2 separate regions of the Homo sapiens genome follow, and region 2 is linked to region 1. Evidence: fine-mapped expression QTL. Tissue or cell type: whole blood. Region 1 holds a variant in brackets; the other region holds the start of a gene. All regions are shown on one strand. Distances are from middle to middle.

Region 1 (5,722 bases):
AAAGAGTAGTCAAATGCTTTTTTAAGTTTATGTGACTTAAGTAAATCTTTAATAAATAAGCTAGCTTTAAAAATTTTAAAAATTATTGGTAAAGTAATATTAGAAATATCTTAAGAATTGCCAGCATACTTGTTTGCATTTATTGATCAAGTGATTTCCAACTTGTCTCTGCCACATACTATAAGGTGTCAAAATTTGGCATACAGGCTACAAAACTATAACCAGCCCAAAACAGAATAATCTTTGCTTATGTAATTTTTAGTAAGTAAAACATTAATATTAGTTTAATTGAAATAGCTACATCTTGAATTATTTAGTGAAATATTTTAACTTCGGATCTTGTGGCCTTAGGCAATCTAGTCCATAAGCATGAAGGAAGTTTGTTCTGGGAAAGGACTGTTACCACCTTTGTTTCAAAGCTAAAGTATAACTAAGAAGTTAATAAAAATAGCTTGGAGTTTAGAAGCAAGATGGAGTAGGTTAGGTCATGTCATTCTCACTGTCTCAGTTATAATTTTGCAATGGTGGTTTTATAACTGTAAATGATAACTATCGCAGCTTTCATAAATCATCTAGGTAAATGATTAAAATAAATAATTAGATGAATGTAATTGGATAAATACTCATAAACAAACCTGTCATAATTTAGAATCTAAAGCTATATTAAATTTAATAACAGACATTTCATTATTTGGCTATTTTCCAATGAAAATATATTGTAGGAAAACATTCTTTCTAAATATTGTGTCCTTTTTTCAGGGTAATTAATTTTTGTCTAATCCAAAGCTTATTTAAAGGTTATATACAAAACAAGGTAAAAGAAACCAGAAAACAAGAGAGCTATAAAGAAAGTATAAAGAGAGTTTTAAAGATTATTGGTAACATGAAAATCTCCTAAAAAATGTAAACATTTGGACTAAATTATGCAGGTCAAATATTAGGTTTGCTAAATGTTTTTGGTCATAAACTGTTTCTTTGACTTACAAATTGTTCAATTTATTTTGGAGTGCTAAATTCTAGATAAGGCCTGGGGACACATGAAATTAACCATGCCCTTAGCTATGCAAAAAGGTATAAAGAAAAGAGATTTTATATAAGAAAGGATCTTGTATGGTAAATTCTTTCCTAAAAGTAAAATGACTGGTTGTTTAAAAAGAGGGATGTTTAGGACAAGTCAGAAAGTCAAGGCGTGTCGTAGCTTGTCTGTGTAGTCATGAAAGAATTTATGAAAGCGAATTTATGCAAGAAATATACAATTTAAAGGTGATTAGGCCTCCTAAATGCTGTATAAAATGCCACTATGACTCTTAGCCGCACAACTGCCTGCTTTACAGCTAGATATGGCCTGGGACACATGGAGTTAGATGCTGGAATAAGTCAGACTTTTTCTGCACTTCTGTCTAGGTCCTAGGCTTCACACCTAGTTCTTCATTCAAATCCCAACCTTACCAAGGTTTTCACCAAAAGTGAAGGTTCCTAAGAGTTAACAGAGTAACATGTATTTAAAGCTGTTGAAGAAATAGCAACATTCTTTATGTCAGTTTACGTGCAACGTGTGTAAGGAAAGTAAAATATATTTTTGGTAAAAAGATTATAAGGAGGCATGAGGATGTGGATTTTTTGCCTAGATTTAAAGTGTTGTTTTAAGTTAGATAAAATAAAGATGAAGGTTTAAGCAAGGTGTGGAAGGTTGATTGTAAGGGAAATTCTGTGTGTAAACACATTGGCTAAAGTTAAAGGAGTATCATCCAGTTTTTCTGTAAATTGAGCATTAAAATAAAAACACAATGGGTTTCTCTTAGAGCACTAACCTGCTCTTTAACAAAAACTGTAAAGGGTTAGAAAAGTTCTATAAAAATCTTACCTTATGGTCAAACATTAAAATTGGGTAAATATGTTTATAAGGTTTTATTAAGAATTGGGTGTAACTAATGTAAAGGGGAAATTTGACCTATTTGGTATAAACATTACACAGGAAGTATTGTTAGATATGAAATGGTGTTTGGCTGTCTTTGGGCTATATTTGTATAAATATGTTTTGGTATTTGTTTCAAAGTTATGGGAGACTCCTATATTTCTGATGTATCTTAGTGGACATTATCAGTAATAATTGTTATGTTAAATTATTGTGTGCCACAGAAGTAACAGATTTCCTTGTCAATTGTGTTTTTAACTATGCCTACCCTAAAACTTTTGTCATCCGTAAACGATTGTCTTGTTTTGGTCCTCTTTAGAAGGTGGTTTTATACTTAGCTGGAAAGCTCTCACAGGTGCTCTTGAATGTCATCCGTAAACAATTGTCTTGTTTTGGTCCTCTTTAGAAGGTGGTTTTATAATTAGCTGGAAAGCTCTCCCAGGTGCTCCTGAATGTCATCCATAAACGATTGTCTTGTTTTGGTCCTCTTTAGAAGGTGGTTTTATAATTAGCTGGAAAGCTCTCCCAGGTGCTCTTGAATGCAGGTTTCTGATAACTTTGAAGATTGTGACATTAGCATAGAAGAAAAACGTTCACGACTCTTGAAGAGCTAAAATATTTACTAATATCAAGTAGGACAGGAATGAACTGCATGAACTGAACTGATAGAAGACTGAAATGATCTTTTTGACTTTTGCTTAAAATGTTAAGCAATGTTGCTAATCCTTTGTTTTGCTTTTTCAGAGTCAAGGAAACTTTTGAGCTATTAATGGCTTTTAACAAGTATATTCTTATGAACAAAATTTGGGGCATATTTGTTTCTCTCTACCTGATTTCTCCAGAATTTGGAACTGTTTATATATAGTTATTTGCATAAATACAATAAGAATCTGTTTTCATTTGTAACAGGACACAATAGGAAAAACTGATTATTTTGCCAAGGCATTGGCTGGAATGTTGTGCTCTCCTTTTAGGAATCAAACTTGACTTATAAAGCCAACAAAGCCCTTGGAAACTGTCCTCTTATTCTGTGTACACAGTCCCTGCACAGGGGTTGTGATCTGTGGTAAGTAAAGAATGTCACTTTCTGACAGGCCGGGAACCCCAAGTTATCTTGAAACCTCACGAGGAAAGGAATTCATCCAACTCATAGGTATTTGATGAGATTCCAGGGACCAACTGCAGATTCTGGTGAAATACAGAAATCCTGCCCTGCCCCTTATGGCGGCCAGACCTCATATGGGCAGGACACAAGTGGGCAGTGATGGACGTGGTTTCCACAGGGGCAGAGCTTGGCTTCTTCAGGAGGTCATGAAGAGCTCTGGGAGCAAGAGCAGGGACCCATACCAGAAAGCAAGTTCCAGCATTGAGGAAACACACACACACACACAGCCAAAAGTGAACTCAGAGCTCTCCCTAAACCAACTCAACAGAGATGGATATTGACAGAATTGGAGGCAGATTTGGTTGAGCAAAAGCAAGCGGAGATCTCAGGAGGCTGCTTTGGCTGGCGGTGCCTCCTGTGTGAGCTGCTGGTGGGTAGAAAACAGGGGCATGGAGTTGGCTCTGAAGGCCGGGGACTGGGTGGCACACCGTGGAAACAGCCTTTCTACCCAAGTAACTGGCTCGTCTTCAAGGGATTTCAAGATGATTTCCTTCTAATGAAATATTCTTGTATTTCATAGTATTCTACTCACTTTTCTTCACATTAAACTATTCAATGATTGTGATATTCCATTTGAGAGAAGATTCCAAGTGAATT[A/T]TGAGATTGATTCCACATGATGTGTATCTTTTAAACCAACACTGTGTGCTCCAATGGAAGAAATATTCAAATAAGATTGGGAGCACATGCTAGTTTTTCTTTTATCATGATTTATGCAGCAAATGTTTTTAAAAAATCATCTTTGGGGATTTAGTAAACATTCGGTAGAATTCTATTTTTCCAGTAAAATTTGGAGTAATTCTTTTGTGTCATTGAAGAATTTTGGGTGAGTACAAGTTCATGTGTTTCTGTGATGTATAAACCTCTTCCTTATACTCAAAGGAATTATATAGTGCTAGAACTCCTTGATTAAAGCAACATTTTATTTCTAATTCTTTTTTAGTATCATAAAGTAGGTTTATGTCCAAAAGATCATGCTACGAATGGTGATGGAGTCCAGTCACACCCGTCTCTCTCCAGAGTCATCGAGCATTCCTTTTATCTCCCTCCTTCTCACCAGAACCTTCCAAGGACCATGAGATAACCTTGGGGGTTGGGGCCCACGTTTTTGCCTTGGTGTAGCCTGGAGCTGGGAGATCCACTAACCCCTGCGGAAATCCAGCCGTGGCCGGTGGCTTATTGATGGCATGCTTTCAAATGTCACCAGTCCGCAGACACACGGAATACTCATCTACCCTCATGAACAAGGCAGAGTGGCCCTTTCCCATCTCCGTCTATATGTGTAGTATTCAGAACACAGTTTAAATGCCTTTCAGCTTCCTAATATCCAGTCCTCCTGCATCATCTTATGTCTGCAGGTTGTGTGCAGGCAGCTGCTGAAAGGAGCCCAGGTGCCCCCAGACCGTGCACACAGCTGTGTGCTGAGGTCAAATCACTGCCAGGGCCGTGTTCTGACTTCCCCTGAGAGCTCTGCCCTGCTGCCCTGCAGTGCCGTGAAAAGAGGGAAGAGGGAATGTGATACCATCTACTCTTCTTGTTCCGTGCACATGGTTTCTATTTGGAATTATGACATTGTGGAATTCAGGTGCCGTCTATACACACTATTTGTCTCTTGTAAGAAATTATACTCTGATTTGGCCTCATGTACTTTGATATTTGTGATCAAACTAGACGATGAAAGCTACATATAAAACCAGAGATAAAGACAAAAGTCCAAGTTATTCACAGATAGCCTAAACAGACACCAGTAAATGCAATATTTATGTGTATTCAGAAAAACAAACTATAGTAACCATATGCATAGAGAATTGAGTCAAATATGTTGTTGATATTTTTACTTCCTGCCTATATGGCTCTGTGTGTGATGTCTATGTTTCTTCCAGGACGTGACTTAAGGAGACCACCCAAATTTGGCATCTTTTCCCTCTTTTTCAAAGTAGATTTGGGATTAATTATAGTCATAGCCATCATTTGTAGACAATTTAATTTTAAAGTGCATTTTATTTGTCTATACAATATTATATGTATAATAGGACAGACTCAGAACCTAACTGCTTGGGTTCAAATCTGAGCCTGACTTCTTACTTGCTGTGTGACTGTGGGCAATTCTGTTTACTTCTCTTCTTCAATTTGCTCACCCGTAAAGTAAGGAGAATAAGAGCAGCAGCCTGTCGGTGGTTAAGGGATTGAAATGAGTTACTATTTGTAAAGAATTTAGAATAGTGCCACAGAAGTCTCTGTGAAATTACACAAACTGTCTCATTTAATTCTCTTTCCAGCATGCTAAGTAATGTTATTTCTCTCCTTTCTGAGAGGTGAAAGGACTTGTCCAAAATAATACAGTGACTTTACTCTCCCAGCCCCAAACCCTCTCTGGTGTATTTAAACTGAGGAGACTTGTGGAAGAGCCTGTTCTCAGAGAGTGTTCTGCCTACCTAGACAGAGTGTTTTAAGCAGCCGTGATCACATTCACTATCGTCACCAGCATCCTCATCATCAACAGACCTGCACTCATTGCTTTACTGTTCATATCAGTGGTCTAGTAGCTTTAAAATGAGCCCAGTACATAATTCCCTCAGTCTCTCACTGTCTTTATTAAATGCAGGCACCTTCTGGGGATAATGGCAGGGGCAGTGTCTTCCTCA
Region 2 (5,722 bases), 420 kb before region 1:
TTTCATATCTGTATCTGTCTTAAGGATTCCTGAAAACGGACTGCTAGGCCAGAGTATGTTCATCTGTAATTTTTATAACTATTATTAAATTTCCCCACCTATATCTCTGCTCCAAAGTGTGCAAGAATGTCTAGAAGACACTTAAAATAACTGTATAATCTATTACTGGTCATTTTCTACCCTTAATTCACATGACTCCTACAGAGAATCATCTCAAGGCCCTGAGATCTACATCATCAACAGCCCACCAGCCCCTCTGTGCCTCCTGACACCTCCTCTGTAGAGGTGGTTTTCTTAGCCCAGCTTTCCATTAACTTTTCCATGCTTCTCTGGCCTCATTCCCTCTCTTTTCACATTGATTCCTGTTCTCCTTGGAGTTAGGCCTGTATTATAACATTATCTAACAAAAGGAACCAATGGTCAGAAAGGGGAATTTTACAGGTCAAGACATTTTCAATGGGACAGTTATGAAAGTTTGGAGTACAAAGACAGCACAAACCTGACTCTGTGTAGCTCACACAGTCTGTGATTGTTTTCCAGCATACTTCACCATTCTGAGTTACAATGCTATTGATATCACAATTTTCTCTGAGTTGAAACCCAAGATTACAAATTATATCATACACTGAGGGAGAAAGACATGTGGTAATAGGGTCCCCTATTAATACCTAAAAAATAAAATAAAATAAAAGGCACTGCTTAACAGAAAGAAAAATAGAGTATTATATATTTCAGACACATCTCTTAAGAACTGAATGCACTCAGGTATAGTTGCTGTTAACATGCTTTCTGGATATCGTGAGAGCTGTATGATTAAAACATAGTGATTAAATATTAAAGATAATTTACATAAATGTTCTCAAATATGATAAAGGCTTAAAGACCTAAAATTATCAATCATAATATTTGCAAACTGCTCTGTCTATGGGGTAGCCATTGTTTATTCCTTTACTTTCTTAATAAACTTGCCTTTCACTTAAAAAAAAAAAAGAAAAAATACAAGTTCACGGAAGCTGAATGTGTTTTACGACCAGAGCATTATTGCTCTCAGCATTCCTTCACTATCCCAGAGTTATCAAAATAAGCAATTTTTTTAAATGGGGAATGGGAGAGCAGAAACCAAGTATAACGAACAAGAAGGAAAAAGAACCCCACGTACCTCTGACTACCTAAACGGTGTTGAAGAAAACCACAATGTCATCCCAAAACATGCCTCTTCGATATAAAAACAACAACAAATTTGAGCTGAAGACAAGAGGCAGCAAATGAAGGAAAAGCTCTCTCTATCCTCCCCCTCTTCCGCCCAAAGACAGGATATAAATTCTTTACTGGGGATAACTTTAGACTTACCAGACCAGTTAAGGTACCAGGGGAATCTGCAAACAATTCTTACTCCATTAGTTTCCGAATATGTATCTACCTTCCCAATTTCCTGCCCTTTGAAGCCTAAAACTGCTCTCCTGTGTCCTGTCACTTCTCTGCAAATCTACAGTTCTTTGTTGAAGATGGTATACAAATGTAGTTCTAAGCCACCATTTCAAGTTACTTCTCATTAAGGTTTATCCCTTGTGATGTGTACTCTGTCCAAGAATAAACTTTTTTCTTGTTATCCTTTCATTTGTTAAAGGGGTCACTCCGAACTAAGATGGGCAGAGGTAAAGTTTAGCCTTCCCTGCCATGTAAAAAGTAGCAAACCGTACTGGTTTTCCATGGAGAATTAAATACAATCGAAATCCTCACAATTACCCCACATGACACTAAGACCATCGTATAAACCTGCAAAGAAGTCAAATTCAGGATCTAAAGCGGAACCGAAGCTCTTTATTTTGGTGTGTTGAGTTAAGGGGGGGCTGTGTTGTGACAGTCATAATTAGCTCTGGGCAGCTTCCTAATGTGGAAACTGCTATCAGTTGCCCTGTTTGCTCCTCCTGCACCCAGAAGTTGCACTTTCCACTCTCAGCCCTGGTTTTCGAACAATCCCAGCAGGCCCTAACAATTAAGTCATCACTAAAGAAATCTACATCAACTATTTGTTGATTGGCGATTGTCACTCGCATCCTCCATGTGGCTCTATGGGGCTGGAACTCTGCAGACTACACTGGGCCGGTGCTTTGGAGCTGGACTTAAATTTGAATCATTCCTCAGCCTCTGACTACCTCTTGCCTTGGAAAAGTTACTTTATCGGAATCTCAGTTCTAAGTGAAATAAAACGGTGCCAGGCTGCACCTGGTAGGGCTACAGTAATCAGATAACACATGAAAAGCATCTAGCACATAGTACTCAAAAATGGTAGTTATCGTTATCATCATTTTGGAGACGGGGTCTCGCCGTCGCCCAGACAGGGGTGCAGTGGCGCGATCTCGGCTCACTGCAGCCTCCACCTCCTGGGCTAAAGCGATCCTTCCACCTCAGCCTACGGAGTAGATGGGACCACAGGCCCCACCACGCCCGGCGATGAACACAAATTTACTGTCCGAGTGTGGACCCTACAGGCAGCGACTAGGAAACTGCGCTTCTAGGAACGAGCCACGGTCAGGTGAGAGCCCGACCTGCGGCTTTCCGCCCCCGCGCCACCGCGCACAGCCCTCCCTGACCGTCCGCCGCGTTCCAGCTCAGGGCCAGGAGGCGACGGAGAAACCGAGCCTGGCCCAGGGAGGCCGGCAGGGCCCGCCAGGCGTCTTGCAGGGCCGAGCGTCCGATACCGCCACAGAGGCCAGGGCCGCGACGTCGCCAGCGCCCTCCAGCGCGGGACCGCCGGCCACCGCAGGCGCGTGCTCGCTCGCCCACTCCGCGTAGCCGAGCACCACCCAGCCTGGCGCCGACTCCCTGCCTAGCTCGGGATCGAACCGGGCCCTACACCCGCCCTACCTCCATAACTTCCGGTGCCCCGCTGCGGCGCGCGTGAATGACGCAGGCGCCTGCGCGCCCCTCCTCCAGGCGCTTTGGAGCCCTGGCGGGCACTTCCTACCGTACGAGGCGCAGGTGGGAGACTTCCGCCCTCGCGGGACTGGCTAGGGCGTTTGACCGCCGGCGGTGAAGGGGAGGCGGTGGGCGTCTTGGAGAACAGAGCGAGATGGAGAAGCGAGGCCGAGGCGTGAAGTCGAGCCCCATCCAGACCCCGAACCAGACCCCTCAGCAGGCTCCGGTGACGCCTAGGAAAGAAAGGAGGCCTAGCATGTTCGAGAAGGAGGCAGTGAGTGCGGAGACTGCTAGGGGCCCGAGACGGCTATGTCCGACCGTTTAAGTGAAATCGCTCCCCAGTGGGCCCCGCTCCCGTCACCACCCCCAGAGCCAAGGAGGCAGCATCTCCCTTTTGTGTTTCTTTTTTCCCCAGATGCGAAATTGAAGCCTGAGACTGAGTTGGGCAGTCCCCTTTGGACTTGAGTGCTAAAGTTTTCTTGTTTTTTAATTAGGGCCATAGAACCCTACATAAGTCGATTGGAAGGGTGGTTACAAGATCTTCTTTTCAAATTTACTCAGCTTGCGGATTTCCTGAGAGTACTCTGAGTATTATTGCTTTGTACTAAAACACAGTATGTTAGTGTATTTAGTGCCATTATAAGCAGTTTTGCTAGCGAAAAATGAGTGTGTTGTATTAAAAAAATAATTTGATAAACCAGGCAGAATAGTGCCATGTTTTGGGTTTTTAAAACATCAGCAGTCTGGATATTTGAAGAATGTACAGGAGAAAAAAACTTAAGTTGAAAATACCCTGTCCAAAACTTACTGATATTGATGGAAAGGGTCATTATTCAGTTTTATTGGTGGTATAACAGGTATTTCTATATGATTAGGCTTTGAAAACCGTTAATGTATTAAAGACTCTATATTTTATTGATACTTTAACAGAAAATTAGTTTGCCCAAGGATACAAAGCTGTAATGATAGAGCTGGGACCAGAACCTGTATGCTAGTACTCGGTCCAATTGGCCTATACTGGTTTCTCTTCGTACTTACTTCGTGGACCTATAATAGGATGAAGATAGAGATGACAGGCAAAACAATTTTTTGAAGACCCTAAAACATTTTAAGATTACTCTTAAAAAGAGAATTCTCAAAATAATGGCGAAATTTCAGGTTCTTGTTTCCCTGGTGTCTACATTTTACAGAGGAAAGAACGAACTAAATAAAGGAGGAAAAGCAAACAGGCCAAGTTTACACAGCTAAGAAAAAGAGCAGAGCAGGGCTAGAAACCTAAATCAGTTGGACTTAAAACTTCACACTCCCAAACACTATGCTGTATTTCTTGGCAATGAGTCTGAGTAACAGGTCACCAACAGTAAAGAAAAATTTCTATATATTGAGGCAGACAAGGGTGGCTTTTATAAACTTACTGCCTATCTGAGGTCTGAAGTGGTCTTTAAAATTCAATGAGCCTGAACTCAAAATGAGGAGACACATAGGTGCACCTGGTATATAGGTTAAAATCTGGGAGTGAGGGGACATGGACCAAAGTAATTATTAGTATTTGATATGGATGTGATCAATTATAGCTATCTTTAAAGTTGATTCTTTTAGAGGTGAGAAATTTGAATAGAACAATAATTGGGAAGAAATTGAGAAAGGACTCTACAAATGCTCACTAAATGTACCTGAGGAAACTGTTCACTTAGTTATTTCTAATTTAAGGTAGCTGTTAATTTCCCTATTTTGGAGCATAGGAAAATTTAAGACATACTGTTTCATCAATATGACCATCTCTTGATTTTATCTGTCTTGCCTCCATTTCTTTTTTTCTAGTGGTAGCACCTCAGTTAACTTTTAGAGAATTAACTCATCTGCAATTGTATAGAGCTTTGGTGAGATTGTCAGCTACTTCCCTTAACTTTTTAATAAGGATGAGACCCAAACTAAGCTAATTAGATGAATTCTTTGAAATAATGCAAAGAAAATGATTGAGGTTTATTCACATTGAAGATGAGAAGCTAAAGTGTTCCCTGTGTCTTTCTGAATCTGGTTCATCAGCCTTCTCTGCTGTTATGTAAACTGTATCTTTCCAATAAATTATACTTTGGCTTAACACGAATGAGTTCCTGTTGTTGCGATCAAAGGTAACAAAATGCGAAGTAGATTACTAAAATTGGAAAACGTGATTGTTCTCACTTGTGCACATGCATTGAAATTCTTAAATACAGCCGGGTGCAGTGGCCCATGCATGTAATCCCCACTTTGGGAGGCCAAGGCGGATGGATCACCTGAGGTCAGGAGTTCAAAACCAGCCTGGCCAACATGCCAAAACCCCGTCTCTACTAAAAATACAAAAATTAGCCGGGCTTGGTGGTAGGCACCTGTAATCCCAGCTACTCAGGGAGGCTGAGGCACGAGAATTGCTTGAACCCGGGAGGAGGAAGTTGCAGTGAGCCGAGATCATGCCACTGCACTCCAGCCTGGGCAACAGAGTGAGACTCTTGTCTCAGAAAAGAAAAAAAAAATCTTAAACACTAGCATGTGGCATTTAGAAATAAAAGTAATATCTCCTGCCCAAGCTCATTTTATTTTAGGGCTATATGTAGGCTCAATATAAGGAAATGCTATATCAGTAGAAACTCAGGTATTATTAGATGCCAAAAAGTTGATCATATTTAAAGCCTATTCCCAATTTAAAAAAGATTATAAAGATTCTTAATAAAAGGAATAAAATACTCTTAATAAGTATAGCAAGTCAGCCAATATTATACACAAAGGAGAAATGGTACAGATGTAAATTTTCAGCATATTAGAA

The links. PIP is the estimated chance that this variant, and not a neighbour inherited with it, causes the effect.
Region 2: it holds the start of ERMARD, and the variant in region 1 is fine-mapped to the expression of ERMARD in whole blood (TOPMed, PIP 0.93).

The regions. Positions count from the first base shown.
Region 1 is chr6:169,330,976-169,336,697 of GRCh38, reverse strand. It overlaps LOC105378148, which reads left to right. Exons shown (of 4, transcript XM_017011621.2): 4 at 5,683-5,722. The coding sequence ends at 5,699. Among named protein-coding and RNA genes, the nearest start is that of LINC02519, 55 kb to the left of the region's middle. The variant A/T (reference allele first, on the strand shown) is at 3,678.
Region 2 is chr6:169,748,810-169,754,531 of GRCh38, reverse strand. It overlaps ERMARD (ER membrane associated RNA degradation), which reads right to left and starts at 2,910. Exons shown (of 18, transcript NM_018341.3): 1 at 2,869-2,910; 2 at 500-668. The coding sequence starts at 2,874. It overlaps DYNLT2 (dynein light chain Tctex-type 2), which reads left to right and starts at 2,960. Exons shown (of 4, transcript NM_174910.3): 1 at 2,960-3,193. The coding sequence starts at 3,074.